6 linked regions of the Homo sapiens genome follow. Changing the gene in region 1 together with any one later gene gives a genetic interaction. Each region holds a gene or a part of one and is shown in the gene's direction. Other genes may lie near its edges.

What was found.
Region 2: changes in FUT8 (region 1) and SEC24B together harm fitness more than expected from each alone (negative genetic interaction), as found in Homo sapiens cells (one large-scale study listed by BioGRID).
Region 3: changes in FUT8 (region 1) and ARL5A together harm fitness more than expected from each alone (negative genetic interaction), as found in Homo sapiens cells (one large-scale study listed by BioGRID).
Region 4: changes in FUT8 (region 1) and TRAPPC13 together harm fitness more than expected from each alone (negative genetic interaction), as found in Homo sapiens cells (one large-scale study listed by BioGRID).
Region 5: changes in FUT8 (region 1) and MAN2A1 together harm fitness more than expected from each alone (negative genetic interaction), as found in Homo sapiens cells (one large-scale study listed by BioGRID).
Region 6: changes in FUT8 (region 1) and SEC24A together harm fitness more than expected from each alone (negative genetic interaction), as found in Homo sapiens cells (one large-scale study listed by BioGRID).

What each region holds. Positions count from the first base shown.
Region 1 is NC_000014.9:65,736,552-65,742,055, forward strand, and holds part of FUT8 (alpha-(1,6)-fucosyltransferase), read left to right. Parts: intron 1-5,504. UniProt on the Homo sapiens protein: Catalyzes the addition of fucose in alpha 1-6 linkage to the first GlcNAc residue, next to the peptide chains in N-glycans.
Region 2 is NC_000004.12:109,457,166-109,462,723, forward strand, and holds part of SEC24B (protein transport protein Sec24B), read left to right. Parts: intron 1-5,558. UniProt on the Homo sapiens protein: Component of the coat protein complex II (COPII) which promotes the formation of transport vesicles from the endoplasmic reticulum (ER).
Region 3 is NC_000002.12:151,800,708-151,805,827, reverse strand, and holds part of ARL5A (ADP-ribosylation factor-like protein 5A), read left to right. Parts: intron 1-2,503; coding exon 2,504-2,552; 3' UTR 2,553-5,120. UniProt on the Homo sapiens protein: Lacks ADP-ribosylation enhancing activity.
Region 4 is NC_000005.10:65,655,233-65,660,790, forward strand, and holds part of TRAPPC13 (trafficking protein particle complex subunit 13), read left to right. Parts: intron 1-403; coding exon 404-421; intron 422-3,135; coding exon 3,136-3,269; intron 3,270-5,466; coding exon 5,467-5,558.
Region 5 is NC_000005.10:109,817,682-109,823,239, forward strand, and holds part of MAN2A1 (alpha-mannosidase 2), read left to right. Parts: intron 1-1,987; coding exon 1,988-2,206; intron 2,207-2,538; coding exon 2,539-2,661; intron 2,662-5,558. UniProt on the Homo sapiens protein: Catalyzes the first committed step in the biosynthesis of complex N-glycans. It controls conversion of high mannose to complex N-glycans; the final hydrolytic step in the N-glycan maturation pathway.
Region 6 is NC_000005.10:134,650,986-134,656,543, forward strand, and holds part of SEC24A (protein transport protein Sec24A), read left to right. Parts: intron 1-5,558. UniProt on the Homo sapiens protein: Component of the coat protein complex II (COPII) which promotes the formation of transport vesicles from the endoplasmic reticulum (ER).

The sequences.
Region 1 (5,504 bases):
TTGCCATATGATGCGATTTTTCAGAAACAAAAGTTCTTCATTCCCAAAAGGTGAGTGAAGACTTAGTATTTGAAGTAAATGTGTGTGTGTTGACTTTAGTGAAATTAATCTTCAGACTTTCCTATATATGTCATAAGCATTCTAGAAAATGGAGGAAGACTAAAGCCATACATCCAGAAGAGTGACAGAAGATAAACACTGAGAATAAGTTCAGCCCAGAATAAAAACATGGATAACCAACTCTCAACTTTCTTAGATGATAATTTCATGTGCCAAGAGATGTTAGGAAGTGATCCAAGTTTAATATCTCCTTCATAATTCTTTGACAATCTTTAAGTTTTATTCATGTAAACTTTCTGTCTCCTATACACTATCCTTTCAGGAATTTTATACCATATAACAATAGTGAGAAAGAGTTGACCTGTTGACCATGAGCTATTGTAGACAATACTGCAGGAATGAAATGCCATGCTAGAAGGAAAAATACAAGGCTAGATGTTTGGAAAACTGCAGGCAAAAATGTCATGGGACCTTAATCGGGATTTCTCATAAATTTTTAGACCTATCTCCCTCAGTCTCAGGACTTCTCATCTTTCTTGGTTTTATATCCATAAGTGAGGTCTGGGAATTCTCTCTTCTTCAATGAAAAGGTTTTAAAAGCCAACACTGTGGCTCTGCTCTCTAATTTTGTTACTATTATTGCTGTTAACTTTCATCAGATCTGTTTCTCAAAGCCAAGTTTGTCCTAAAAGCCTCATAAATTGAATAGCACAGTCCTCAGGATTTAATATGAAAATTGGAGGCAATATTAGCATTTTTTTCAAGTACGTCAAGTGAATTTTGAAAGCTATGCAACTACATTCTAAAACGTTCTACCAAATACATTAATCCTATTCTGTGTTACTGGAAATCGCCTATGTGCAAAGCATCTCCTTTGTCACCTATTTTCTTATTTGAATCTTAAATCTAAAGCAAAGAATTTATAGTTGGAGAATAACAGCAGTTGACAGCCCAGTTGTAGATAGGCACAGTATCAGAAAGGTTTTCTGAAAATATTGCTTATCAGGTTCTGGGATCAATTTTTATTTTTCTGAAATCTGACTTAAAAAATGGTTGCAGATGCTCACTTTAAAGACTAACATTGTTAAAGACATTGTTTAAAGAGCAGTTAATGTTACTCTGTAGTTTCAGCCATTAAAAGTTATCATAATACAAAATCCTTTTTTTCCCCCTATGACACCTCCCTTTATGGCAGTTATTACAATACTCTCATGAGCCTCTCTTGGTCTAATTCCAAATCCGCACGCAATTCTACTCCCCTTATTACACTTTGAATCAGATTTTGGAAGCCCAGAGGGCAAAACCAAAAACTACGTTAACTATTCCAGACAGATGGCTCTGGACAGGAATTTCCATTGAGATGTGGCTCATGAAACAACAGTGGATACCTGTTGAGAGTACCATGGAGGAAAGCACAGGGTGAAATCCCAAGGTGTGAACTCTGTGATTACTTCCCAGAGCAGAAGACAAGAAAAGTATTTGCATCCACAGAGGCTCTATCTAGCTTACAATGCTGAGTGCTGTACAGTGCAGCTGTTACTGCATTAATCCTTCTGGTGTTTCTCACAACAAAGAAAAGACCTGGGTCTTATTCTCTTATTGTATAGTAAAACAAAGCAGATTACAGGAAAAGTGCACAGATCTCTCAGCCACTTCCAACTTCTCACACTAGGATATCCTCCTGCCCCTATCTATCTATTTTGACAAAAATAAGATCCCATCTACTCTGAGAAAGCTTTGGAGGCTTATGTAAACTCAGGCTACTTCTAAGGGATGAAATTCAGACTAATGGATTCCTCCCCCTTTTTAAAATTTTTTTTAATACAGTCATATCTGTTTTATCCTTTGGCAGGATTTTTGCTGTTACCCATTACTGTGTGCTTTACGATGTACTAAAAATGATACAGTGCCATGTCAACACAGAATAAAGTTAAACATACTACATGTAGCCAACCACTGCTTTGCAAACCATGGACTGCTCTCAGTCATGCCACCTGTCAAGCATCAAACCTGAGTATGGACGTCAGCTGCAAGCCTTCATTTACCTGCCATGTGATTTGAACTTTTAAACCACGTGGTAGGTAAGGAAAGAAGAGAGGAAGCATAGAGTGACTAAATGCGAACATTAACACTATAGTAATCTTTTTAGCCTTTTGCAGTAAATTGTCCCATGGTTGATATAGACAGTTTTAAAATTACTTCCTCTTAATGTTATATATGGATCTTAAGGGTTAAATATCACCCATGGACTTGTGTCTCCATTACTGGGCTGGTATTATGCCTGGAGCAATATTCATTCAACAGATACTTATTGAGCACGTACTTTGTGGCAGGCATTGTTCTAGGTGTTTATCCTAAGGGAATATATACTCAAGAGCCTGAAAGAGTTCTGACTGTGGCTCTGCCATTAACTAGTTCCTTTTTGGATTTTTATTTTTATTTTTTGAAATTTACTTAATCTTTCTGTGGCTTAGCTTCTTCATCTGTAAAATATGAATAATAATAGTACCTCACAGGTTTGTCATAATAGTTAAATGAGTTGAGACAAGGTGAGGGAAGAGCACACTATTATAACACTGCCTGGGACATAATCGGTGCTCATTAAGTTCAGCTGCTATCTTTAATGGTCATTCTTATGAGAAAAATAAAGGGCCACACCTGTGTAGCACTGGTATGCTTGCAGAGGCCTACAGTCACATTTGTCATTTTTATAATGGGCCACCTCAGTGTCTGAAATCTCTACTATTATTATAATAGTTATTTCTTTGGTTTAAGAAAACAGTTCTGTTATCCACCAAGGTTAACACATGAACAACTCTTGATAGCAAAACATACACTAATTATTAGGATTATCCCCAGAAGAAACAGGTCTCTAAGGGTGTGGGACAGGGTGCGATGTTGTTTTTATGAGAGTAAGACGTTTAAGAGTGGAGAGGAGGAAACACATCACGGTTCATTGTCACAGTAGAGATTGTGGTCATCCTAAGAGTAACACAAGGTCCTGCATTCCTGGCTAGGGATGACTGAAGAGTGGGTGAAGACACCCTGAAAAGAAGACTGTCAGGTTTACCCAAGACTGTCTTTGGTCTTATGCTATATCTTTCTGGTGTTACAATATGAACATGGAGAATAAGATTTACAAGAGAAAATATATATAGCAGTTTCAAGCATATGCAGACTGCCTGGGTTCCAACCTGAATTTACCACTTATTAGTATAACCTTGAGCAATGCCTTAACTTCCCTTTGACATTTGTAAAACAAACATAATGATAGAATTTTATGGGGATGCTGAAAGGAATCTAATTACATTAGATAATGTCTAAAAACAATGTCTGACAGTTAGCAAAAGCTCAGTAAATATTAGCCTCTGTCATTGTTATTGTAGTTTGCTATTATTGGAGCTGCTTTAATTATTTAGTTTCTTCTTTTCCTGAGTCCCACTTAATTTTGCTTGCCTTCTATGAGCCTTTGGCTGAATTTGAAATTCAAAAGTTCCAAATCTTTTTGATCCCTATTTTATTATAGTCTCGGTATTCTACCAATGATCTCAATTGTAAAATGACATTGCCAATATAATCGTTGTTGAACTAATAAATCTGAAAGCAAGGTTTCTATTATTTTGGTTCTATATCTAGTTGAAATTCTATCACTAAAATTTGCATAAATCACTTAATCTCCTTGTGTTTTAGTTGCCTATCTGCAAAATTAAAAATATTGGGGCAAATGTAGTTTCATTTGCAAATTATATATAGCATTTGAGAATTGCCCCTCAAGTTTTCTGAAATTCAGATTCTCTAAGTTGAGGTGATGATTAACCTAGTCAGATTTTATTTGATAAGAGTTAAGAATAGGCATCTCCATTTGTATTAGTCTGTTTTCGCATTGCTAAAAAGAAATACCTGAGACTGGGCAATTTATAAAGAAAAGAGGTTTAACTGGCTCATGGTTCTGCAGGCTATACAGGAAGCATGATGCTGGGGAGGTCTCAGGCAACTTACAATCATGGCAGAAGGCAAACGGGGAGCCAGCACTTCACATGACTGGAGCAGGAGGAAGAGAATTGGGAGGTGCCACATATTTTTAAACAATCAGATCTCACGAGAACTCACTACTGTGACCACAGCATCAAGGGGTGATGGTTTTAACCATGAGAAACCGCCCCCATGATCCAATCACCTCCCACCAGGCCCCATCTCCAACATTGGGGATTACAGTTCACCATGAGATTTGGGCAGGTAACACAAATCTAAACCATATCACCATTCAAGTTTTTAATCTTCATAAATGCCAAGGTTTTAAAAGACTGCCGGGTAGTCCTAAATTGCTCCACTGAGCAGATAAGCAATTACTATGAGTAGCGTCATTTTAAATACATGCAAAACTATTGGTATAGTGACAATAAAGCATTAACTAAGATTACCATAACTGGAGATTTAGGAAAATTTCATCTGAGTTGCATTGTTCTCTTTTCACAATGTATAAATTGCTTAAATTGGGTGATAGTTTAGTTTAACTTTATTACTAAGCATTAACCTCAAGGATTGAAGCTCAGATTGTGGAATTTCACCTGCTATCCAGTGAGCAGAGAGGGTATTCTTTGGACATAGGGACCTTTTAAGTAGCCTTAAAACTATAGTAATCAGGGTGATGCATTTCCTCAAAGGCTTGCCCAGTTTATGTCATCCAAGCATGCCACTCTCTACACAGCACACTTAAAACTTTTTAGAACAGAAATTGCCGATGTGTTTTAGCTCACTTGCCAGTGCTTGTTGATTGTCAGTAATTACATGAATCTCTCTTGAAAACAGTTCTGGGAGCGGGGAGGGATAGCATTTGGAGATATACCTAATGTTAAATGACGAGTTACTGGGTGCAGCACACCAACATGGCACATGTATACATATGTAACTAACCTGCACGTTGTGCACGTGTACCCTAAAACTTAAAGTATAATTTAAAAAAAAAGAAAACAGTTCTGACACCAAGTTATAAATTAGCAGATGAGAATGTGTGATTGATTAACAGTGTATGAAGGAAAGGGACCATCAGCATTTATTTGTGTTAAGTTTTTTTATCCTAATCCTAAACTTCAAATTCTTTAAGGGCACAAACTATGTCTTACTCATTTTGGTATCATGAGTGCCTAGCTTGGACCACTGTGTATGTAGCTCTTAATAAATGTTTGTTAAAATTAACTAATTCATATTCTTAAATTCTTTTGTACTATATAGAGATAGAGAGATTTTAATTGTAATAATCTTTCGTGAGTTTTTCTTCTTTATTTGAAAAAGGATCCAGACACAGAGATGAAGAATGACTTGTACCATCTTCTGAGAACAAATGGACTGAAAGCTTGTGACTAGAATCCACTACTTTTCAACCTCTTACTCCTAGAGCCCATCCTTTTGGCCAAGGGCTTTTAGATTGCTGTGAAGGAGAGTGT
Region 2 (5,558 bases), on another chromosome or scaffold:
TGAGAATTTCTGTTCTATATCTTTATTAATGTCTTAGGACTGCTGAAACAAATGGCCACAAAGTAGGTAGCTTAAAACAACATAAATGTATTTTTCTGCAGTTATGAAGTCTAGAAGTCTGAAATTAAGGTGTTGGCAGGTCTACTTCTTAGTCCATTTTGTGCTACTATGACAGAATGCCTGAGACTGTCTAGTTTATAATGAACAGAAATTTACTTCTCACAATTCTGGAGGCTGGGAAATCCAAGATCAGGTGCCAGCACCTGGCTAGGGCCTTCTTGCTGTGTCATAACATGGCAGAAAACATCACGTGGCAGAAGGGCAAAGGTGAGGGCAGAGAAAAGGGGACCAAACTTGCCCTTTTATATCAATCTCACTTCTGTGATAGTGGCATTAATGCATTCATAAGGGCACAGCCTCTTAATACCGTTACAATGGCAATGAAATTTCAAGATGAGTTTTGGAGGAGCAAACATTTAAACCATAGCAGTCATGCTCCTTCTGTAGGCTCATAGGGGAGTAATATGTTCATTGACTCTTCCTACTTGTCTCACTGTTGGCATTCCTTGGCTTGTGGCTACATCACTCTGTGCTCCAACTTCACATTGCCTTCTCTCTGTTTATGTGTATGTCTTTTCTTCTGTATGTATATTTTATAAAGATACATGTGATTGCATTTAGAACCCACTCAAATAATCCAAGAGAGGCTCCTCTTCCCCAGATCTTTAACCTAAGCATGTCTTTTGTCATTTAAGGCAATAATCACACTTTTCCATGTAATTTTCACAGGATTGGGGGGATTAGGATGTGTACATAATCTTTTAGCGGGCCACTCTTTAGCCCACTACATGCTTTACTGATTATTACAAGTGTTAGACTGCTATGTGTTGTCCCACAGGTCTCTCGAATTTTGTTCATTTTTCTTCAGCCTTTTTTTTTTCTCTATGTTTCTTAGATCATTTTCTTAACCAATCTTCAAGGTTGGTCAACTTAATCAAGGTTCATTAAGTCTTCTGCCATACTGTAGAGACCATTTAGCATATTTATTTGTTTTATTTTGAATATTTTTTAAATAGTTTTCATTTCTCTCGATATCCCTTGTCTGTTCATTTACTGGTAACATTTTCCCCCAATTTTTGGAATATATTTTCTTTTCATTTTTGGAATAGATTTATAAAGACTTTGCAGTCTCTGCCAAATTTGGCTTCTGGGCCCACTTTGATTCTGATCTCTACCTCCCTTATTGCTGGGCATCCTGACATCTCCCACTTCTGCACAGTTAAGCTGCCAACTAGAGACTTGACCCAACAATTGCAACTGGTAGGAAGTTATTTTTAGTAAAGTGAATGAACACAAAAATTACCTACAGATCTATTTATTAGGTGGTTTATGTTAAAAAAATGAAAACCTAAATGGCAGATAGAAAATTGATTAAAATATGGTAAATTCATGTAATGGAATACTATTCAGACATTAAAAATAATGATGGAAAGATATTCAAATCATGCTAAATGAAGGAATCATTTAAAAGATACATTATAATCCCACTTTTGCTTAACTAAATTATACATATATATGCAAAAAGAAAATACTGGGTGGATATACATCAGAATGTTAGCAGGTTATCTCGGGAAGATTAAGATGATTTTTATTTGATCACTTTCTGTATTTTTTTTTTTTACAATGACTGTATCACATTTGTGATAAGAAAAGTACTTCTGAAGTTATTTTTCAGAAATTTTACTATATATGTAACAAATTTTTTTCCTCCACAACTTTTATGTCTATTTTAGAAGTATTAAAATACCAGCAGTCTTTTCATACATGCTGCAGAATCATTTTGAATCCCAAGAAAGATCACAGATGAATAATTACTACAAGAGTTTTTTATTCAGATAAGTTAAACATAATATATGTATATGTGTACATAATGCACTGTGTTGCTCTACTCTTCGAAAAAATAGTTCTTTCTTGGAATACAATATTTGGAGGCCATAGAGCTTAAATAAATGTGGAAGAAAACTGAAGCAGGTACACGAGAAAAGAATAGGGGGAAAACACTGAGGGCAGAAAATTTAATCTGTCATGAGAGGCAGAAACAACTGGAATCATAGACATATGCTGTAGACTTTCACCATCCAGTGTGGTGGCCACTAGCTGTACATGGCTGTTGAGTACTTGACATATGGTTGATCAGATTGAGAAGTGCTATAAGTGTAAAATACATAATGATTTTTGAAGAAATAGTACAAAAAAGCAAAATATCTCAGTAATTTAAAAATACTGAATACATGTTAAAAATGATTTACATTTGTCTTTATTAACTTTAATTACTTTCAGATACTTTTTTATACATTGGGAACATTTAGGTCTTGATATAAAGTATGAAATAGTAAGCATCCACATATGATTAGATATATTAGATATTCCCACCCCCCATGTTTTCCTGGAGTAAGTACCTTTCTTTGATAGGCTAGAAAGTAAATAGACTTATTCTGGTGGGCAACTCACTTCTGATAAATTTCAGCAGCTAGGACATTCCTGTTATTTTTAAAAGAATGACATTTGAATAGTTGGGACATAATGATTATTTCTCGTTTCAGATCATGTAGCATGGATATGCCAGATCAGTCACTAAGTGGGTAGATATTTGAACAGATTTCTCTAAATCTGACTTGGCTCTTCATTGATAAATTCTACTAGTGTAGAGTTTTCTGACACTACAGTGAAAGGTAGCAGATCCATCTTTTAATATATTTAAATAGGAGAAAGGAGGACAACATTTTACTTTTGTCGTGTTAATGAAAGATCCTAACAGACTTTATTTCCTTAAGTAAATAAATTCTTTCAGATGAATTATTACCATCTAAAATAATCTAAGAAAAGTAAATTATACACCTAGTAAAATAGCGTTATCAGTATTTTGGTTTTCTGTATACTTCTTGGAATTATAGGAGGAATGTAGATGATATTTTTCCCTTACAGCTTGACTGTGTAAGTTATTTTTATGCTGGCCGTAGAATATATATTACATGACCAGAAATGAAGATTCCATTACATTACTTAGTACAAATTGAAAACAATTAGAAAATGTATGCTTTATTCTTATCTCTTTTATAAACAAGTATTTTAATACATTATTATGGCAAGGAGTGTAGTGGTACTTCCTTTGTGTACTTGTGTCAGTGGAGCTAAAACATCTTGTCAATTTTCTATTAAATTATCCTTTGATTTGAGATATGGCACAGATACCTGTTTCCTTCCACAAGACAGAAAAATTAGATTCCAAGATAATTAAGATTTGCCCAAAACCCAAAGAAAAGTAATTGGAACTAAAACTAGAATTCTGTTTTTGGGACAATTGGCCATTTGTAGCAAAGGACAGCAGATCATTGGTTAAGAGCATAAACTTGAGCCAGATTGCCTGATTCAAATTCCGGCCCATTTAGTTCCTAAGCATGTAACTGTGTTAAACATCTTGACTTTTGTGGCTCACTTATTGATAAATGGGTATAATAATACTATTTACTTTAGAGGATTAAAGAAGTTAATATATGTAAAGCATTTAGAACAGTGAATGGCATATAATGTAATATATTAATATATTAATATTAATAAGACTAATATTAGGATTAATGTTTTGTTGGTATTAATAAAATAAATATATGCTATACTTATCAAAGATATATAAAGATGAAAGTATAAAACACTAGAGTAAAACATGGTTTTATAGTTTTATAATCTTGAAATGAAGAAACCTCTACTAAGTATGATTTAAAAATCTGTCAAGCATAAAAAAAGAATTTTACTACATAATCAAGAAACTATAGCAAAAGATACCATGAACAAAGTGAAAACATAACAGTAACCTGGGGGAAATACTTACAGCACATAACATTAGGCTAATTTTCTACTGTGTGAGAACAGCTAGAAATCATTAAGGAAATCGCAATGCTACAGAAAAAGCAAACAGCAGAGAAAGACACCCAAATGAGAGTCTCAGCATCATTCAAAGTTAACTACTGTAAACTAAAGTGTTTCTCACTTTTCAGATTGGCAGAGATTAATATATAGTCAGTATTGGGACAATGAGGCAATATGAAGCATTATTGATGGGAGGTATAAATTGATAGACCTTTTAAGAGATATTTGCCAATAATGTCAATTTTAAAAACATAAACCTTTTGAACTTCCAGTTTGACTTCTAGAAATTTGTCTTATAGCTTCATCATAAAAGTTGACCTCATAAATATAGATTAGTTCAACCCCAAGATATTCATCAATGGAGATTTGGTGAATAATGTTATATCTCTACAATAAAGTACTATATGTAAATTTTTAAAAGAATAATGAGGATTTATATATGCTAATACTTAAGGATATTCAGCATATATTAAGTAAAAGCAAGTTGCGGAACTGTAATATCCTTTTTGTGTGTTTAAAAAATCAAGTAAATTATATACATGCTTACATATGCATTACATAGATACATGGATATACAGAGGATGCATAAGCATTAACTGTAACTATATCTGGGAAATAGGATATAAGCTACTAGGCAGAGATTTTTAATTCATACTCTTTATTGTTTGAATTTTTTCTACAGTGGGTATATTGTTACTTTTCTAGTTAGGAAAAATAAAAACTGAGAAAAAAGTTTTAGCTGTGTGCAGTGGCTCATGCCTATAATCCCAGCATTTTGGGAGGTTGAGGGAGGAGAGTCACTTGACTCTAGGAGTTTAAGACCAGCCTGGGCACACAGTGAGACCCTGTCTCTACAAGAAAATAAATTTAGAAACATTGGCTGGGCCGTGGTGTATGGGAGACCAGCCTGGGCAACACAGTGAGAGCCTGTCTCTGTAAAAAATAAATAAGTAAAAATTAGCTGGTCACCATGGTGCACGCCTGTGGTCCCAGCTGCTCGGGAGGCTGAGGTGAGAAGATTGCTTGAGCCCAGGAGAACAAGGCTGTAGTGAACCATGATCATGCCATCGCGCTCTATAGCCATCACACTCTATAGAGCCTGGGGTCAGAGCGAGACCCTGTCTCAAAGTTTAAACTTCTTCCAGGATGGGTATATTAGTTACTGATAGCTGCATAACAAAATACCCCCTAAGCTTAACAACTTGTAAAACAACAACTATTTATTTCACAGTTTCTCAGGAAGATAAACTTGGGAGCAGCCTAGCTAGGTGGTTCTGGCTCAGGGTCTCTCATGAGATAACCTGTTGGCTGGGCTATAGTTATCTCAAGATTCTACTGAGTTTGGAGGATCTGCCTGAAAGCTCAGTCGTGGTTGTTGGCAGATCTTAGTTTCTCTTTGGCTGTTGGCCAGAGAGTTAAGTTCCTCCTTGCATGGGCTTCTTCATAGGGCTGTTCACGGCTTGGCAGGTTAGCTTCTTTCAGACTGGGGTATCTGAGAGAAAGAGAGCCAGAGCTCAAGACTGGGCTAACATGGAAGTGACATATCATCACCTTTGCCGTATGCTACTGTTCATACAGACCAGTCCTGGTACATTGTGAGGGAGGACTACAAGGGTGTGAATAACAGGAGGTGG
Region 3 (5,120 bases), on another chromosome or scaffold:
TATAATGATGTTTTGGTCAGTGATAGACCACATATATGACAGTGGTCCTATAAAATTAAAATACTATATGTTTACAATAACTGTTCTATTTTTAGATATGTTTCAGTACAAAAGTTCTTACTATTGGGTTATGGTTACCTACAGAATTTAGTACAGTAACATGCTGTATAGGTGTGTAGCCTGGGAGCAACAGGTTGTATGGCACAGAGCCTAGGTGCATACTAGGCTATACCATCTAGGTTTGTGTAAGTACACTCTGATGTTCACACAATGATGAAATCACCTGACACATTTCTCAGAATGTATCCCTGTCATTAAATGATGCATGATTGCATTTAAAAGCAGAGGAAAAGAGAAATAAGCGGTGAATTCTAAATAGAAGTCTTAAGTTTGGGGTTGAGGTTCTTGAGGTGTTAGGAAAGGACAAAAGCATGGGGTATAGATGAATTAGCTGAAGTGGGAGAAATTGTTTTCCTTTCAAGACCACGATGAAGGGTGAACCAAATATAACGAATTATTGAAGGCAAATCTTAATAGAAGGCACTGTTACTGACATTTGGAAGAGCATAATTAGAACCTTAAAAAAGGTTTTTTAATTAAAAAAAAACTGTTCATTAAAAAAATCACAGATAATACCAATTATCCATGTATTCATTTAAGTAAAAATATGTTAAGTATTTCTTTGTCAAATAGTCTAATATATATATCTTTGTCAAGCAAAAGCATGGATTTATAATATTTGTCAATAAAGACACGTCATCTAGGATTGACATAAGATTTAATTTATATACTTTGATAATTGTATGGAAAATGTATCATTAGTATAGATATTAACTCAATTTCATTTTAAAAAGAGGTAAAGCAATTTTGTTTTAAAAATAGGAAAATAATAGATGAGTTTGGTTTTGAGAGAAATGTTCTGTTTTTCTTTTATAGTTCAGCTACCTTGATCTAAATTATTGGTTTTAGTATTGATTAGCGTTTTGATTCAGTGGATTGGAGATCACAAACTTCAGTGTGTGGCTTCATTTGACTCCTACTTTTCCCATTTGCTAACATTGCCAACCCTGGGTTTCCTCTGTAACATTGGAAGGATTCTGATCTCAGTGTTGTAAAGATTAATTAAGAGAATGGATATTAAGTTAGTTTCTAGTTTGCTATTAGGTAACTACTGTTCATTTATCAGTTTGGAGTTAAACAATCTCTTCATCTATTATTTTTGTGTACTGTTTCCTATCAGTAGTTTAAAAGTAATGAATCTAGTCACAGGAGAAAAGTATGGGACAACCACCCCAAAACAACCATTTATTTACCTCATTGCCATCTTTTTTCTATTTGTGTCTTCTTTTACGTTATTAGACTCATACTTAACAAAACTCTGAATTGAAAAAAATTTAATATTGTAACATAGTTTTTTATGTCTGCAAAAGCTTGTCATAGATAATAGTTAATACTTATAACAGTTCTTCATTTTATTGCAACTTAATGTGTACAACCATTTCTCTCTTGCTCAACTTTTAGTTTCTTTTCCCACAGTGAACATCGTTTTCTATATTTTGGGTTATGTTCAATTACCAGTTGTTCAGTGATAACTGATGTTACTGATAAGAAATTTTATTGCCTTCAAAAGTTTTACATACTTACATTTTATAATATTTATGTAACATGTGTATACTTTGTTTTAATAACTACAATATATATTTTGTTGAATATCCTGCCATTTTTCATTTATATCATGAGCATTTTATCCTATTATAAAATGGTTTTATTTCCTCCATTTCCTGGTGATGAGAATTATGAAATCATTTTTTAAAGGAAAATTTTAAATATTTCATCATACAAATGTCTTGTAATTTATTTTTTTCTGTATTTTTAGACAAAAATTATTTTCCTATTAAAAGTACTTTAATGAACAGTTTTGTATGTAAGTCTATGTTTATGTCTGATTTTCTTTTTTGGGATACATTTCTAGAAGTAGAAAAAAGGATGCAGAGTATTGATATTTTAAATATTTTTGATACGTATTGCCAGATATATTTTTGACATATGTTGCTTTCTGTGGGCACTCATTGCATAATTATAAAGCTTTTTTAAAGTGTCAGACAGCGTTCTGGGTGCTAGAGATATAACTGAACCAAAAGAGCACAGATGTATTAGCTGGGTGTGGTGGCACACGCCTGTAGTCCCTGCTGCTGGGGAAGCTGAGGTGGGGAGATCGCTTGAGCCCAGGAGGTCACGGCTGCCATTGATTGTGCCATTGCACTCCAGCCTGGGTGACAGAGTGAGACCCTGTCTAAAAAAGAGGAAAGACAAAAAAAGCACAGATGTATTGTGTATGAGAATATGGCTTCACTGCAGCAGCCCAAGCACTGAATATTATTGATTTTTAAATCTTTGTTATTTAGCTAAATGAAAAATGCTCTCTTTTAGTTTGCTGTTCATAGTTTGCTGCTCATAGCTTCTTAGTTCAGAATTTAATCAAATGATTTTGTTTTCTTTATAGATTGTGCCAAGGACTTGAATGGATGATGTCACGACTTAAGATTAGATGATCTCTACTGACCTCTTCTCATAGATTTTGTATAAATGAAGTGCTGGACTTTACCTGAAAGCTGCAAAAATTAATGGTTTAGATATATTTATAATAAACTGATTTAAACTTTTTCTATAAGAAGAAAAATTAAGACCACTTATTTGAAAACAAAGATGAAGTCTCACCTTCCAGTTTGCTTTCTCATTAGTTTTTTCCAAAGTAAGTTATTGAAGCTGTGATTGACATTTTTCTCATAATGAATCCTCTCAGGACATTGTGTAGCCTATGGTAAGTACAAAGGGAGAGGAAGACATTTTGAATTTTAAGAGCTTTATTATCAGTTTAACCCTCCCTAGTTGAATGTTATTTTCTTCTTGTTCCATTAAGTCAGAATACAAATCAGCACAGATATTCGAATGTTTCCAATATTTTAAAATGTAATGTTACTTATGAAAAGTATTTTGCTTAAGGTTGTGTGTGTATTGTGTATATACCTCAAGTTCAAGTTAATGGCATTGATTTATGTTCCAGACAAAAATAACACAAATAATAATATCCTTCGTTATAACCACAATGAGATAAGTATTGGCATTAGTGTTCAGTGCCATTTTATACTTTCTCTCTGTGTTCTCTGTATTGTACTAACCAACCTCCCAAATCGCTGAGCTGCTTGTTTAAAAAAAAAAAAAAGGAAAAGGAAAAAGCATGACATTGTGTATCGATTTTTTGTTGTTGACCAAAATCACACACATGGAAACATGTAATTCAACAGAGTGGGAAAGCTAGCAGATTCTTGGCTTAGTATTACTAATAGGCAGGATTGTACAATGAGCAACTATCAGATTATTCCTTTCAGTGGTTCTTATGGCATCTAAATTACTGAATAAATTATTAATCCATTAATCAGTGAATCAAATTATGATTACAATTATCAAATGAATGCTCAGCATTAATTGAAAACTGTTTTGTGAAACATGTCTACCCAGAAAAGTAGCATTCTATAAATACTATTAAACAACTTAGCTATATTATTTTTAAGTATTAAATTATATGTCAAGCAGTTAAAGTGAATTTCAGAGTAAAAGTAAGGCATGTTTCTGAGCAACATTGATAATTTCTTAATTTGCAAATTTCTTCTTATTTTGGTACTTGGAATATAGTGTGAGATTTTTTATTTCTAAATTTTGTTGTATCTTCTATTACATAAATGCATTGACAATTATAAAATGCAAGTGTTTTTTGAATGATTTTAAGAATTTGGCTTAAAAATTGATTGATACAACGTATTATTTGTACTAAGAAGTAACTTGACCCAAAACACCTTTTATGTTTGCTTAGGGTATATTTTTTCAGTGTCTGAAAGTCAAAGGTATTCCTGTCACAACTGTAAACAAACTTATCCTAAATGTGTTAAAACATATTCTTGGGTACTCTATTTATGTATCTTTCATGCCTTGAAAATCTGAAGGTTAATCCAAACTCACATGTTTTAGCATATTTGAGAAAAAAAAACTACCTTCAATATCAGCCTTTTAAATTTCATGAAGATTTTGGTGAGGAATAATAGTATATAGTTTAAGTATTGACAAAACTTTGAAAGTTTCTTTCTTTAAAATGGGAAATACTCAATATCTAAATCCAGGTCAGGCATGGGATATCAGTATTTAACATTGGATGTTTTATGTTTTATATTTATAATGTTCAAAATGCAAGCATAACATTTAATATTTGTCCACATGGTTTTACAAAAGTAAATCTTAAATTACTAAGCTTTTCCCATATGTTCTCGTACTTTCTCAAATCCCTATAAAGAATTACTTGTTATCTATTAAAAATCTCCTTTACCCAAATCTGTATTATGGTTTCGCCAGACAAATATTATGTGATGTAGCCCAGAAAATCCACACCTTTTGTCCTTTTTATGTTTTAATTTGAATAATCATGTGCTTAGTCCCTTGGATTACTGCCACATCAGTTTAACACGATATCAGCACATTCCCTTGTCATCATCAAGGTGTTGGCTCAGATTTATTCTTAATTGGATGTTTAAAGCATGTACTACCTTGTTACAGTTGGTTTAGTGTAGTGGATTATTGACATGACATCATGAGAAGATGTGTAATTTTATACCACATTTATAAAACATGATTTTGTTTTCTACCCTTCAAGGTAAACATTAAAAATAAGGTGGTACTTGTGTACTTGTACATAAAACCAAAATTATAGTTGGGAAAAAAATAAATTTATATATGAAAATGTCAAAATCATTTTAAAAGTATTATTTTCAAATAAAATGGAGAAGCTGGTGAAAAGTCATATTGGCAATTTTTATGTAGTTTAAGTGGAATTAAGCAGAGGGAGATGCTTTTGGGTTTTTAATATGCCACTTCTGAGTGAAAACATCTCGTGGAGTCATTGTGTTCAGCTCTGAGAAGAACAAAGATTCATAGTTCTGTACATGTGGCTGGATTTAAATATCCTGTTTTTGATACTAATTTTGAAAGTCATGTAACTTCTTTTGATATCTGGGCAAAAGTAACCATATGCTATAAGCATTTGAATATGTTTAATTTTATCATAATAGCAT
Region 4 (5,558 bases), on another chromosome or scaffold:
GAAGGTATACGGTGTATATCTATTCTGAATGTGGAGGATAGTATATATTCATCCTAAATTATCTATGAAGAATTGCAATGTTGGTAAAGAATTATAGAACTAGAAAGTCATGGGGTATACCTCTCTGCTCCAAAATGTGCCCTTAACAGTTTGCTACTGTTGAGTATTCAGCCATAGGGTTCTTCTCTATTCCATTGTCATTTAACCTTAGCAGTTTCACCTTTTTAGAAAAATGGTTTGTCATATTTCTTTATGTTGCTTCCTGTTTACTTTCTTATTTACTAATGCTGTCTTGTTTAGTAATTTAAAAAAATGCAGAAATGCATTTTATTTTAAAGTAATTCTTTTTTCTTTAACATTTAACTCTGATTTTTCTAATTATTCTTTTTTATTTTTCCATTAGAGTGACCTCAGTTCTGTGGTAATTTGATTTTTTATTATAAATTTTTATACTTTTCTTACTCACCACTTTTTGACTCTGCCTAATTAATCTCTCTTTACAAAACATAGTGGAAAAACAGTTAGTTGTGAATACCACCTATGTGACTTCAGAAAGATTATATATAATTTTATGTACTTTTTAATTATATCAATTTTCTATTCCGTGGGGCAAAATTAGCTCAAAAGTTAAATTGTCATACTGAAACAATTCTCATTTTCAGTGTTTCTTCTTTAGATTTTTTTTTTAAAGAGGTATGTTACCTTGTGTCAAATGGCCTTGTGATTTTCATCATCTTACTGTAAAATACCCGATTATCCTAGCCTTCAGTTCTTTGAGTAGACTGTATAATCGAAATTCATTTTCAGATGCACAGTGGTTTTAGTTTTAAGTCTGGGTCAGGTGATGATGGCCGCTTGACAAAATGAAACAGAAGAAAAGCAAATTTTCCCAACTTGGCTAAAATTTTGTTTTCAAAGTTATATTTACAATAAGCAGCATTTGCTTATATCACATTACATATGTAATAACATCAACTGCCTTAGCACTGAATTCTTAATTTTTAAAATATCAAATTGCTTTACACTAACTGTTCAAACTAACTTGATTTTCCATTATGCTGCTTGTTTTTCTTTCGTTTTATCTAAGCTCTTCCTAAATTTATGCAGAAAATTGCAGTTTTTAAATTGAAATGTGGGTCTGTGGTTATTTTTTTAAAAGCAATGGATTGATGGGATATATGTACTTTTTTTTAGAACCAGTAACCAAAAAATGCCATTAAATGATGCATTTTTTTAAACTGATAAATCATTTTATTTCTATTTTCATTTGAACACATGTCCCAAAAACTAAAGAATCTGTTTTATTTTAGATAATAGTACATTATATTATAACTTAATCATTATATTTTTGCAAATGATTTTCATTTTCTTGGTGTTAGTGTTTAAAAAGCTCAGCCAGGCGCGGTGGCTCATGCCTGTAATCTCAGCACTTTGGGAGGCCGAGGCGAGCGGATCACGAGGTCAGGAGTTTGAGACCAGCCTGGCCAACATGGTGAAACCTCATCTCTATAAAAAATACAAAAATTAGCCAGGCATGGTGGCACTTGCCCGTAATCCCAGTTACTTGAGAGGCTGAGGCAGGAGAATCACTTGAACTCAGGAGGCAGAGGTTGCAGTGAGCTGAGATCGCACCACTGCACTCCTGCCTGGGTGACAGAGTGAAACTTCGTCTCAAAATAAATAAAAATACAAAAATTTAGCTGGGCATGGTGGCACTGCCTGTAGTCCCAGCTACTAGGGAGGCTGAGGCAGGAGAATCGCTTGAACCTGGGAGGTGGAGGTTGCAGTGAGAGGAGATCTTGCCACTGCATTCTACTCTGGGCAACAGAGCAAGACTCCATCTTGTGGGGGTTGGGGGAAGCTCATAGGCCAGGCACAGTGGCTCACACCTCTAATCCCAGCACTTTGGGAGGCCGAGGTGGGTGGATCACTTGAGGTCAGGAGTTCTAGACCAGCCTGGCCAACATGGTGAAACCCTGTCTCTACTAAAAATACAAAAATTAGCTCAGTATGATATTGCGCGCCTATAATCCCAGCTACTCGGGAGGCTGAGGCAGGAGAATCCCTTGAACCCGGGAGGCGGAGGTTGCAGTGTACCAAGATCACCCCACCACACTCCAGCCTGGGTGACAGAATGAGACTGTCTCAAAAAAATAAAAAGCTCTTAAGTGGCAAATTTTTCTGGTCATAGTTGATTTTATGTTATTTATGTGTAGTAAACATATTACTATGAAACTTTTGAAAAAAATTATTGAATACCCTTAGTGTATCATTTTTCATGTAGGTTTGTTTCAAAGATAAATCAAGTTAGTCTGTTATCCTTCAATTACATGAAGGAAAATAATAACCAAATAGCATAAAATAATGTTTAGCATAATTAGGGGAATTAATTTATCTAAATTTATCTAATTATCTAATTTATCTAATTATTAAAATTACCTACTGGCAAATATTGCTAAATAGCATCAGCTTTAAAATCTGTCACTGAGGCTACAAAATACCTTTTGCCTGATTTAAAAGCTCTACGATGGTGAAGTATAATCCACATATTCTTTTTTTAGCCCTCAATATACATTTAAAATGAACTAAGAAATCACTAATGACCACTCGCAAATTGCTTTAATTTAAAAAGTTAAATCCTTCAAGATTACAAAATAGATTATTCATAGTATTAGTGGTCACTACACTATCTAAATTGGCATTAATATGACAATCAAAGTTATACTGCCATATTATAATGAAGACTTAATTATCTTAACGTAATACTGAAATTATAGGAGCATAGGTATATTCATCATACTAAAGCACATTTTAATATTTTAATACCTAATGAAAAGAAAGAGTATTTGTAAATGAAATTCCAGTTAAGTATTTTGGGATGTTAAGACAAAATATAGTTATCCTCCATCCATTGTTTGACAAGGTATCAGTTGACTAACACTTGACTTTGCCCCTGTTAATTATGATAGGGTGAAGATTTCTTTTCTTGCATTAATTGTGGTAACTTTGATTTGCAGGCATGAACTAATCACATTTGTGGTTAATATTTTTTCTTCATATAGATAAGATATTTTTGTTGAGATAAATATTTTAAATGCCACCACACCTTGGTGGATATTTTTTTCATATCCTCAGACTGATGAAGTATTTCTGGAAGCCCAGATTCAGAATATGACAACCTCACCTATGTTTATGGAGAAGGTTTCACTGGAGCCATCTATTATGTACAATGTAACAGAATTAAATTCAGTCAGCCAAGCTGGAGAATGGTAAATATTAATTTATGAAGTCTTTATCCTTGTTTTGAAAGATACATGTTTTTCTAAACATCCATTGCTCTTCAGTGGGTTTTTTTTTAATAGACTTTTTTTAAAGAATTTGAGGTTCATAGAAAAATTCATCAGAAAGTAGAGTTTCCACATACCCTCTTCCACTCCTCACAGTTTCTCTTGTTATTTACGTCTTGTTTTTTATTTTATTTTTATTTTTATTTATTTATTTATTTATTTATTTTTTGAAAGAGTCCAGCTCTATGCAGTGGCATGATCTTGATCTAGGCTCACTGTAACCTCCACCTCCCAGGTTCAAGCAATTTTGGTGCATCAGCCTCCCAAGCTGCTGGGATTACAGGTGCATGCCACCACGCTTGGTTAATTTTTTTATTTTTAGTAGAGATGGGGTTTCACCATATTGGCCAGGCTGGTCTTCAGCTCCTGACCTCAAGCGATCTGCCCACCTTATCCTCCCAAAGTGCTGTCCTTACAGGCGTGAGCCACTGTGCCTGGCCTACATCTTGTTTTAATGTGGTACATTTACTACAATTGATGAAATGATATTGACACTGATTACTAACTAATGTCTATAATTTACATTAGAATTCACACTTTTTGTTGTATGTTTTATTGTTTTTGGTTTTTGGTTTGTTTTGTTTTAAGAGACAGGTCTCATTAATGTTGCCCAGGCTGAAGTCAAATTTCTGGACTCAAACGATCTCCCAAGTATCTGGGACTATAGTCAAGCACTGTAGGTTTTGACAAATATATAACATGTATCCACCATTACTATATTATGCAAAATAGTTTCACTTTCCAAAAACTCTCCTGTGCTCCATCTTCATCCCTCCATTACATAAAAATAAAGATCCTAGCCCTTTTAATTTCATGTTTTACTATTCAAAGCATTTGGTCTTTTAAGTCTCATAAAAATCCAGTGAGGTAAATATGAATCCTATCATTGCTATCCTGCAAATAATAAAATGGAGGAATGTGAAGGAATGGTAGAGAAGTTAAAAAGAGTAAGGGTGAATGTGGGTTTAAAAAAAGAAATACTCTCTCAACATCAAAAGAAAAGGACATAGGAATAGATGGTTTAATACTTTGTGAAAAGGAAATACATACACCTTTCCACAGCTAATTTAAAAGAGGAAGAATAAATGTAAAGTTGACAATAATACAGATAAGAAAGTAATAGGCTGGGTGTGGTGGCTCATGCCTGTAATCCTAACCCTTTGGAAGGCTGAGGCCAGAGGATTGCTTGAAGCTATGAGTTCTAGACCAACCTGGGCAACTTGGCATTTTTTTTATTTAGCTGGGCATGGTGGTACACTCCTGCATTCCTAGCTCCTTGGGAGAGAGGCAGGAAAATCGCTTGAGTCCACAAGTTCAAGGCTGCAGTGAGCCATGATTGCACCACTGTACTCCAGCCTGGTGACAGAGAGAGACCTTGTATTTTAAACAAAAAAAAAAAAAAAAAAAAAAAGAAGAAGAAGAAGAAGAAGGTAATAGCTTGGGATAGCATCTGAATTTCTTAATTAGGAATGAAAAGTTTGCTTTTATATTCTTAGGTTGGTTACACACAGAAAAGTTCATAGCCTCTTTCATCCTCACTGAGGAAAACAATTTTCCATTCTTTTCTAGATGTTTTAGTTCATTTTGAAAATTAGTTTAGAATGGTATGTCTCTTATTATTCTAAACTCTTATCTTTGATAATTTTAGAGAAAAGAGACAGGATACTTAAGGTTCTGGTTTCTGTTGCACTTTTCAGTTAATTGATACATGTTCAATTTTATAAGTAATATATTACATTCTATTATAAAGAACCTCCTTGAACCCAGAAGTTAGAAGTTACAGTGAGCTATGATCATACCACTGTACTCCAGCCTGGGTGACAGAGCAAGACCCTGTCTCTTAAAATTATTTAAAAAAAAAAAAAGGGACCCCTGCCTTTCGGGGTCCAATTACTATAAAGAACCTCAAGATTTTCGATATCAACTGAAAAAAATGAAGGAAAAATAAATCATTGCAGTATACGTTCTTTTTATTTGTATTGAAATCGTTAACATGTTCTGTTGTTGATCTTTGGAGGGTACATCATCCAGTTCCTATCCAAAGGAACAATCACAGCCATGGTTTTTCTTTTAAAAGATGCTAGAGAATTTTCTCCGTCTCTGTCTCCACCCCTCTCAGTGTGTCTACGTTTGGGTCAAGAGCATATTTGCAACCAATGGATACACGCCAGTACTTATACTGCCTAAAGCCAAAGAATGAATTTGCAGAAA
Region 5 (5,558 bases), on another chromosome or scaffold:
ATGTATATTGTATATCTTTGTAAGGATGCATACTGTTTATTCTAAGGTAATGCAGTAATTATTACTCATAAAATTTTGAATGTTTTGCTCTAAGTGAATTTAATGATAATTATGCATATCGAAAGTGAGATAAATACCACCCTTAGTAACTTTGGATAGTTTTAGGTTTTCATTGCAAAGGTGACATAACACACCATGGAAGAGAAATGCCCTAAAATAATTAAGATGCTTCTTTTGTGAGATATAATTGTGGAAAATCTGTGCTCAAGTTAATAGGTATTTTTTGTGCCAAAGTTTCTTAAAATAAGCAATATTAAACTGATCACTGTACCACTAGAAAGGTTAGACTTTTAAAATCTGGAATGTCATTTAAACGGCATTTCTGGAGATACAGCCATAAACTAGGAACTCTAAGAATTGTTTCTGCTTGACAGAAGCTATTGCTAGCTACTTTTATTATTATTATTATTATTTTTGAGACAGAATTTCGCTCTTGTTGCCCAGGCTGGAGTGCAATGGCGCGATCTCGGCGCACCGCAACCTCTGTCTCCCGGGTTCAAGTGATTCTCCTGCCTCAGCCTCCTGTAACTGGGATTACAGGCATGTGCCACCACGCCTGGCTAATTTTGTATTTTTAGTAGAGAGGGGGTTTCACCATGTTGGTTGGGCTGGTCTCAAACTCCTGACCCCGTGATCCACCTTCTAGCTACTCTTAAATATGCATCATCTTTTAGATAGAAAGGTAAACTATAATAAAAATTTTGGTCAGATTTTACAGGAAGCTTTCCATCTAGAAAATGGAACAGCAACAGCTCCTGGAAAGCAGGGGTCATGTCTTAAACTGTGTGCATCCCCCATGCTCTGTTCAGTGTCTGCTGAACCTCAAGCATTTGATGGCTAATGCTAACTTGTTTAATATTTATATTATGTTTATCATTTTTATTAACCGAAATATCATAATATTGCAAAAAAAATTAATAATTAGGAAATGGCATTGTTGTAAAGCCCTTACATTCATGGAAAATTTCCTTCTCTAGGCATTCTAGAGTACAGCCAAACAATTGAGAATGATCATACAGGTTCACATATTGGATAAAAACATTAGTGCTTTTGATAGGCCTACCAACTTTAGGTTATTAGGTTCTCTGGATAAACTGAGACATGTATGGTTTACCCATAAGATATCAAACATTTATAGAATATTGTTACACAGCCATGCCTTGGTATCTGTAGAGGACTGGTCCCAGGACCCTCTGGGGATAACAAAATCTATGGATGCTCAAGTCCTTTATATAAAATGGCATAGTACAGATGATCCCTGACTTACAATGGCTCAACCTAGATTTTTCAATTTTATAATAGCGTGAAAGTAATGTGCATTCAGTAGCAACCGTACTTCAAGTACCCATACAACTATTCTATTTTTCGCTTTCAGTATAGTATATAATAAATTACATAAGCTATTTATATTTAGTATAAAATATGATTTGTGTTAGGTGATTCTGCCCAACTGTGGGCTAATTTAAGTGTTCTGAGTACATGAAAGGTAGACTAGGCTAAGCTATGATTTTGGATAGGTTAGGTGTATTAAACACCTTTTTGACTTACGATATTTTCAAATTCTAATTGGACATAACCCAATCATGAGTTGAGGAGCATCTGCATTTGCATATAACCTGCACACATCCTCTTGTGTATTTTAAATCATCTCTAAATTACTTGTAACATCTGATACAATGTAAATGCTATGTAAATAGTTATTATACTATAGTTTTTATTTGTATTTTTTGTTTTTTGTTTTTTTTTCAAACATTTTTTATCTGTAATTGGTTGAAACTGTGGACATGGAACCTGTGGATATGGAGGGCCAACTGGATTCTCTTTTTAAAAAATATGATAGTTTGTTGGTTTTACCAAAAATATAAATGGTTTGCCTCTCAGTAGATAACATTTATCTTTAATAAATTCCCTTCCCTATCTTTTAAAGATCTCTTTTCGAGCACATATACCGCCATTGGGACTGAAAGTGTATAAGATTTTGGAATCAGCAAGTTCAAATTCACATTTAGCTGATTATGTCTTGTATAAGAATAAAGTAGAAGATAGCGGAATTTTCACCATAAAGAATATGATAAATACTGAAGAAGGTATAACACTAGAGAACTCCTTTGTTTTACTTCGGTTTGATCAAACTGGACTTATGAAGGTATGTTCTGAATAGTTCTAAAATTCATAGAATGCTTATCATTTTTGCTACAATGTGTGTAGATTAATTAGGCAAAAGGGGAAAAAAGTCTTAAGTAGAGCTGTATCAAATACTCTTGAGTAAAAGGAAGCATGAGCTTTTTGCACCTTCATTGACCACTTGCTGCTCACATGTATAGTCTGTGGGTGGCGCTACTCCGTGGTCTGTGTGTCACTGGTCCACCAGATAAGTACAGAAATTATTTTTTTAAATTGTCATATACATAGAACCAGATGCAACATGCTTAACATCTTAGTGGTGAGTTGCTTATTATTATTTTTTTTAATCTTTAGCAAATGATGACTAAAGAAGATGGTAAACACCATGAAGTAAATGTGCAATTTTCATGGTATGGAACCACAATTAAAAGAGACAAAAGTGGTGCCTACCTCTTCTTACCTGATGGTAATGCCAAGGTAAGTGGTACTGATGAGATGACAAATGGAATAAACACTTATTGAAAGAGTATTGAGGAAAAAGATAAGTGAGTGTCATTATTTTATCATCTGTTGATTTATTAGGGATAGATGAACTTTTGGTTGCAGTATTATCTATCACCTTATTGATACTTAGCAATTTGTAGTCGAAAGTTAGATAAATGGTTGGGCGCAGTGGCTCACACCTGTAATCCCAGCATTTTGGGAGGCCAAGGAGGGTAGATTGCTTGAGCTCAGGAGTTCAAGACCAGCCTGGGCAACATGGCAAAACCCCTTTTCTACAAAAAATACAAAAATTAGGCATGGTGGCCTGCACCTACAGTCCCAGTTACTCAGGAAGGCTGAGGTGGGAGGATGGCTTGAGCCCGGAAGGCAGTTGCAGTGAGCCAAGATCACGCCACTGCACTCCAGCCTGGGTTGACGGAGCAAGACCCCGTTAGATAAATAGTTTTTTAGAGTTGGAATTTGTTAAGATGCTACAATGAACAATGTTCAGTTAGGATAAACAATGAACATGGGAAGAAACTAGATTTTACGTAGAGTTAGGGAGCTTTATATGTATGCATTTTATACAGACACAAAACCTCTAGCCGTATGGGAAAAATAGATTTTCCACTGGACCATTTTTCTCCTTAACTTTCAGCCCTTTAAAAAACAAATCTTTCTCACTCTTGACTATAAAGGTAGTAATACGCAAACTCTGGCACATTTTGAAAATGCCAGAAACTAAAGAAAACATTAAAATTTACCAACAGGTGCACAATCCCATGAAAACCATTGCCAACATTTGGATGTATTTCTTATTGTCTTTTATTTTATGCATATCCTTTTCTCCCCGTTCTCAAGTCTTGACTTATTGCATGTACATATTTTGTTTTTCATTTGTGACAGTGCTCACAATCTGATGGTATGTTTTTTAAAAATCCAATTTTAATATATACTGTTGTGTTTAAGATGTTGCTTATATTCTTTTTCTCCCGATTCTTCACTACCATAACATTGTAATAAGCTTTCTTTGTAGCATTCAAAAAGAATGCTACAATGCAATTCTGATTAATTGCTGAGAATAACTTTCTAGAAGAGTCATTTTGTATCAGTGTCTGAAGTCTTTTAAGGACTTTTGCTGTGTACTGCTTATCTTCCCTCTAGAAAGACTAGGTAAATGTTCAATCCCACCAGCATTTTTTGAGATTAACTCTAAAATCCCACTCCAAGCACTGAGAATTGGCCATATTACAAGCTTTGCCTATAATAGTAAGTTAGTAGAAAAATATTTTTCTGTTAAGATTTTTGTGGTTACTAGTAAGGTTGAACGTTTTTGTACCTTCATTTATCTTTCATATTTCTTTTGTGATTTTCCTATTTCTATTCTTTGACTGTTTTTCTGTTGGTGTGTCCTGATGATCTCTGAGCACTCTATATGTGGTAAAATTAATCCTTTTCCCTATATGTTGTAAAATTTTTCTTATTGTGTCATTTAGTTTGTTAATTATTTTATTGTATTTCTCATTTATAGTGGTTTTAAATTTTTGTGTAGTCATTTCTTTTTTTTCTGTAGAGTTTCTTCCTTTGCTTTTATACCTTTATAGGTTTTCTATACCTCAAGATCAGTGAAATGTTATCCTAATTATTGTCTTGTTAGCTAGGGACCTATCTCCTGAAAAAGTTACTTTTGTTCCACAAGTTATGAAACCTGCTAACTAAAATCCAATACTGGATTTTAAGGGATTGTGTAGGCTACAGTAAGGACTCTAGGTTTTTTGTTTGTTTTTGTTTTTGGTTTTTTTTTTGGCTGTTTGGGGTTTTTCTTTTTTTTTTTTTTTAAGTCAGTGAAGAATTAAAGACAAACTACAACTCATATGAGGCATTCCAGGATGGGCAGTGAGTCCCAAATATGAGCTGTTTCAGTGTTTTCTCATTCACCAGCTTTTGTCATTGGACATTTTATTTTGATTGACTGTATTTATACTTAAAAAAGTAGTTGTGCTATAGAATTTCATGCGTAGATACCAATAACTAATTTATTTAAAACCATTTTATCTTTAAATAGCTCTAATGTCAGATAGAAAGATAAAACAATTGTCATTTTTACAGAGAGAAAATAAAAAACATCAGGGAAAGAGGCAGTCTAGTGCATCAGAAAAAGGCAAGAGCCCAGAACTCATCATCCCAGGTTCTCATCCCCTCCCTCACTTTCTAGCTATTTGGTAATTAGGTACAAGAAATTTGTAAACCATTAAGCATTTTAATAACTCCAGAAAATTTTCCCTAGCCAAAGAGGTAAATTTGGAAGAAAATTACACAATTCTGAAAAAAAAATTTTTTTTTTTTGGAGACGGAGTCTTGCACTTTCACCCAGGCTGGAATGCAGTGGCGCGATCTCAGCTCACTGCAAGCTCCGCCTCCTGGGTTCACGCCATTTTCCTGCCTCAGCCTCCCGAGTAGCTGGGACTACAGGCACCCGCCACCAAGTCTGGCTAATTTTTTGTCTTTTTAGTAGAGACGGGGTTTCACCATGTTAGCCAGGATGGTCTCGATCTCCTGACCTTGTGATCCGCCCACCTCGGCCTCCCAAAGTGCTAGGGTTACAAGGCGTGAGCCACGGCGCCTGGCCGAAAATCTTACACTGTTTAAGTAGTTCATATTGCAAGCCTAACTTTCTATGCTATTGTTGAGCTAAGGTATCTAATACTTTAAAAATATAATTACTCATAAATGTTTTAAATTTGCTTCCATGTCACATAAGTTATGTGCTTTATTACCATTTTTTAAAATTTAAATAAAAACTAAACTAGTGGTTTCCAAGTAGTTTTTTCAAGTTTGTGAATTTATATTCAGCTAGTTCTTTCAAGTAAAAGGACAGAATGTTTTATAGT
Region 6 (5,558 bases), on another chromosome or scaffold:
GCTGATGTCAAACTCCTGACCTCTAGTGATCCACCCACCTTGGTCTCCCAAAGTGCTGGGATTACAGGCATGAGCCACTGTGCCTGGCCTCTACAGGTTTTTTGTATTTTGCCTTTTTTTTTTTTTTGAGACAGGATCTTACTTAAACTGTCCCTCAAGCTGGAGTGCAGTGGCAGGATCACAACTCACTGTCACTCCTGGGCTCAAGCAATCCTCACACCTCAGCCTCCCCAGTAGCTAGAACTACAGGTGCATACCACCAGGCCCCATTTTTTATATAAGTATATAATATATATATATAATGTATATATTTTATTATTATTTTTTGAGTCAGAGTTTCACTCTGTTGCCCAGGCTGGAGTACAATGGCTCGATCTCGGCTCACTGCAACCTCCATGTCTCAGGTTCAAGTGATTCTCGTGCCTCAGCCTCCCGAGTAGCTGGGATTACAGGCCTGTGCCACCACAACCGGCTAATTTTTGTATTTTTAGTAGAGATGGGGTTTCACCATGTTGGCCAGGCTGGTCTTGAACTCCAAACCTCATAATGATCCGCCCACCCTGGCATCCCAAAGTGCTGGGATTACAGGCATGAGCCACCACGCCCGGCCTAATGTAAAGATATATGTATATTATATATATAATGTTTTATATATATTTTGTAGAGATGAGTCTCTCTATGTTGCCTAGGCTGGTCTGAAATTCCTGACCTCAAGTGATCCTCCTGACTCAGCCTTCCAAAGTGCTGGGATTAGAGGCATGAGCTACCAAGCCTAGCCTGGGTTGTTTTATTGTTCATCCTGCTAATAATACAGAGAGTAGGGATATGGTATCAAGTTGGAGAACAGGATATTTTTCAAGAAGGTGAGAAAACGTTTCAATGCTGGGATCTAGTTTTGCTTAACTATTCCAAAGCAGTAGTTGATGCTTGCATATTCTGTTGAAAACTCTTTTTTTTTTTTTTTTTGATGGAGTTTCACTTTTGTTGCCCAGGCTAGAGTGCAATGGCTCATTGCAACCTCTGCCTCCCAGATTCAAGCAATTCTCCTGCCTCAGCCTCCTGAGCAACTGGGATTACAGGTGCATGCCACCACACCCGGCTAATTTTTGTATTTTTAGTAGAGACAGGGTTTCATCACATTGGTCAGGCTGGTCTCAAACTCCTGACCTCAGGTGATCCGCCCGCGTCGGCCTCCCAAAGTGCTGGGATTACAGGCGTGAGCCACCGCGCCTGGCCGAAAAGTCTTAAGTATTTAATGAAGTTTGCTTAAATTACATATTACAGTATAATTAGATCTTCAGTTTGCTTTTGTTTTTTGTTTTTGAGATAGTCTTTCTCTATTGCCCAGGCTGGAGTGCAGTGGCGTGATCTTGGCTCACTGCAACCTCCATCTCCTGGGTTCAAGCAATTCTGCCTCAGCCTCCTGAGCAACTGGGACTACAGGCATGCGCCACTATGTCTAGCTAATTTTTGTATATTTAGTAGAGACGGGGTTTCGCCACGTTGCCCAGGCTGGTCTCGAACTCCCGAGCTCAGGTGATCCGCCCACCTCGGCCTACTAAAGTGCCGGGATTACAGGCGTGAGCCACTGTGCCTGGCCAGTTTGGTGTTTTTTGTTTTTGAGACGGAGTCTTGCTGTGTTGCCAGGCTGGAGTGCAGTGGTGCGATCTCAGCTCACTGCAACCTCCACCTCCCAGGTTCAAGCGATTCTCCTGCCTCAGCTTCCCGAGTAGCTGGGGTTACAGGCACCTGTAGCACATGCCACCATGCCTGGCTGATTTTGTATTTTGTTTGTTTGTTTTGTTTTGTTTTTGTTTTTGTTTTTTTGAGACGGAGTCTCACTCTGTCACCCATGCTGGAGTGCAGTGGTGCGATCTTGGCTCGCTGCAAGCTCCGCCTCCTGGGTTCATGCCATTCTCTTGCCTCAGCCTCCCGAGTAGCTGGGACAATAGGTGCCCGCCACCACACCCGGCTAATTTTTTGTATTTTTTTTTTTTTTTTAGTAGAGACAGCGTTTCACCATATTAGCTAGGATGGTCTCAATCTCCTGACCTCGTGATCTGCCCGCCTCTGCCTCCCAAAGTGCTGGGATTACAGTTATGAGCCACTGTGCTCGGCCTAATTTTTGTATTTTTAGTGGAGACGGGGTTTCACCATGTTGGCCAGGATGGCCTCTATCTGCTGACCTCATGATCCTCCTGCCTCAGCCTCCCAAAGTGCTGGCATTACAGGTGTGAGCCACCATACCCGTTCCAGTTTCGTTTGTTTGTTTGTTTTTTAAAGAGCCTGGGTCTTGCTCTGTCACCCAAGTTGAAGTGTAGTCACTTGATCATGGCTCACTGCAGCCTCGAACCTCCTGGCTGAAGTGATCCTCCCACGTCAGCCTCCTGTGAAGCTAGGACTACAGGCACATGCCCTGAAACCTGGCTAACTAAACAGTTTTTTTTAGAAAACAGAGCTGCACTCTGTTGCCCAGGATGGTCTTGAACTCCTGGACTCAAGTAATCCTCCTGCCTTGGCCTCCCAAAGAGCTAGGATTACAGGCATGAGCCACAACATCTAGCACAGATATTTTATATATTATAGTCAAAAGACCTCACCAGGTGTGGTGGCTCACACCTGTAATGTCAGCACTTTGGGAGGCCGAGGTGCTAGGATTGTTTTAGCCCAAGAATTCAAGACCACCCTCGGCAACATAGTGAGAACCTGTCTCTACAAAGAATTTTTAAAAAATAGGCATGGTGCGGGCCCAGTAGTCCCAGCTACTGGGGAGGCTGAGACAGGAAGATCACTTGACCCCAGGAGGTCAAGACTGCAGTGAGCTACAATTGCACAACTGCACTACAACCTGGGTGACATGGCAGTATCTTGTCTCAAAAATAAATAAATAGGCCGGGTGCAGTGGCTCACACCTGTAATCCCAGCACTTTGGGAGGCCAAGGCAGGAGGGCTGCTTGAGCCTAGGAGTTCAGACCAGGGTAGGCAACATAGGAAGACCCCATATCTATAAAAAAGTAAGAAAAATTAGTCCAGTGTAGTGGTGCCAGCCTGTGGTCCCAGCTACTCAGGAGGCTGAGGTAGGAGGATCACCTGTGTCCAGGAGGTTAAGGCTGCAATGAGCCATGATCATGCCACTACCCTCTAGCCTGGGCAACAGAGTGAGAACCTGTCACAAAAATAAATAAATTAATAAAAAACAAAAGACCTAACAGTAGCCTTTTTCAAAAAAAAAAAATATATATATATATTTTTTGAGACGGAGTCTCACGCTGTCACCCAGGCTGGAGTGCAGTGGTGCAGATCTTGGCTCACTGCAGCCTCTGCCTCCCGGGTTCAAGTGATTCTCCTGCCTCAGCCTCCCGAGTAGCTGGGACTACAGGCGTGCACCACCATGCTCAGCTAATTTTTGTATATTTAGTAGAGACGGGGTTTCACCATGTTGGACAGGGTGGTCTCAATTTCCTGACCTCGTGATCTGCCTGCCTTGGCCTCCCAAAGTGCTGGGATTACAGGCGTGAGCCACTGCGCCCAGCTGAGAGGTTTTTCTAAGTCTTTGTGTATACATATTTCCTTTGCAAAAATTGATAGCAGACTACAAGACCTTAAACTAATGGATCTTAATCTGATTATCATGTATTAACGCTAAAGGCAAATAATGACTCCCACCATTAATTAGTGCCTTTATTGACTGAATCAACTTGCAAAGCCAGTTAGAAACTGCAGTTTTGTTTTGTTTTGTTTTGGTTTTTCAGAAATGGTCTCACTTTGTCCCCCAGGCTAGAGTACAGTGGTGCAGTCTTGGCTCACTGCAGCCTTAACCTCCATGGTTCAAGCAATCCTCCTGCTTCAGCCCCTGAAGTAGCTGGGATTACAGGTGTGCGTCACCATGCTTGTCTAATTTTTTTGTGTCTTTAGTAGAGATGGGTTTCACCATTTGGCCAGGCTGGTCTCGAACTCCTGACCTCGTGATCCTCCCACCTTGGCCTCCCAAAGTGCTGGGATTACAGGTGTGAACCACTACGCCTGGCCCAGGCTTTCCTAAAGAAACGTACAGCTTTTTGGCCAGGCTGGTCTCAAAATCCTGACCTCAGGTGATCTGCCCGCCTGAGCCAAAGTGCTGAGATTACAGGTGTGAGCCACCGCACCCGGCCACATGAGATTTTTTACTAATGCAGATTCTGGGATCCTTTTGAATCCTATGAAATAGGATTTTACAAAGGTGGGACCTGGGATCTCAATTTGTACCATTATTATAGCAGGTTCCTCTGATTCTGAAGCTGCTGGTTGGGTGGGAAGCACTCATCTGCATTCATTCTTGCCTCTAACTTTCTAATTTAGCTTCTTTACCCACACATCCCAAAATTGTCCTTAATAAGGCCACAAGGCTGGGCGTGGTGGCTCATGCCTGTAATCCCAGCACTTTGGGAGGTCAAGGCGGGTGGATCACAAGGTCCGGAGTTCAAGACCAGCCTGGCCAACATGGTGAAACCTTGTCTCTACTAAAAATACAAAAATTAGCCGGGTGTGGTGGCGTGCGCCTGTAATCCCAGCTACTCAGGAGGCCTCAGCCTCCTGAGTGATTCTCAGCAGGAGAATCACTTGAACCCGAGAGGTGGAGGTTGCAGTGAGCCGAGATCATGACATTGCACTGCAGCCTGGGCGACAGAGCAAGAATTCATCTCAAAATAAATAAATAAATAAATAAGGCCACAAATGGCTTCCTGGTTATTAAATAGAAAAATATTTTTCAGTTCTCATTTTCCGAGCTGCATTTGATACCTTTGGCTGTTATTTTGTTTTTACAACAATTGCTTTCTTTGGTTTCTAGGATATCACCAGAAGGGTAGTTATGGTTTTCTTTCTTTTTTTTGGTTGCTATTTCTCAACAGCAGTATTCTCAATATTTCTTCCATTTCTGATTGTTTTTTTCTCTCTCCTCCTTAAATATTGGTGTTCTTCAAGGTGACCTATTTTTCTTACTCTTATATACTCCCTGGGTGTCTTTAATTCCCATGGTTTTAAATCTTATGCATAGATCAGTGACTCCCATAATTATATCTTAAGGTGAAATCTGTCACTTTGGCTGCAGCTAAATATCTTTTTTTTTTTTTTTTTAAGACAGAGTCTTGCTCTGTTGCCCAGGCTGGAGTGAGGTGGCACGATCTTGGCTCACTGCAACCTTTGCCTCCTGGGTTCAAGCGATTCTCCTTTCTCAGCCTCCGGAGTAGCTGGGACCACCGGCATGTGCCACCACACCCGGCAAATTTTTTGTATTTTTAGAAGAGATGGGGTTTCACCGTCTTAGGATGGTGTTGCTCTCCTGACCTCATGATCTGCCCGCCTTGACCTCCCAAAGTGCTGGGATTACAGGCCTGAGCCACCGCGCCCAGCGCAGATAAATATCTTTATACTGGACATCTCCACTTAGATTTCTTGGTGGCACCTGAAAATTAGTGTGTTTAAAATAACTCTTCGATCTCTCTTCCCTTTGCCATTCCCCACCTTTGTTTTTTTGAGACAGAGTCTTGCTCTGTCAACCAGGCTGGAGTGCAGTGGCA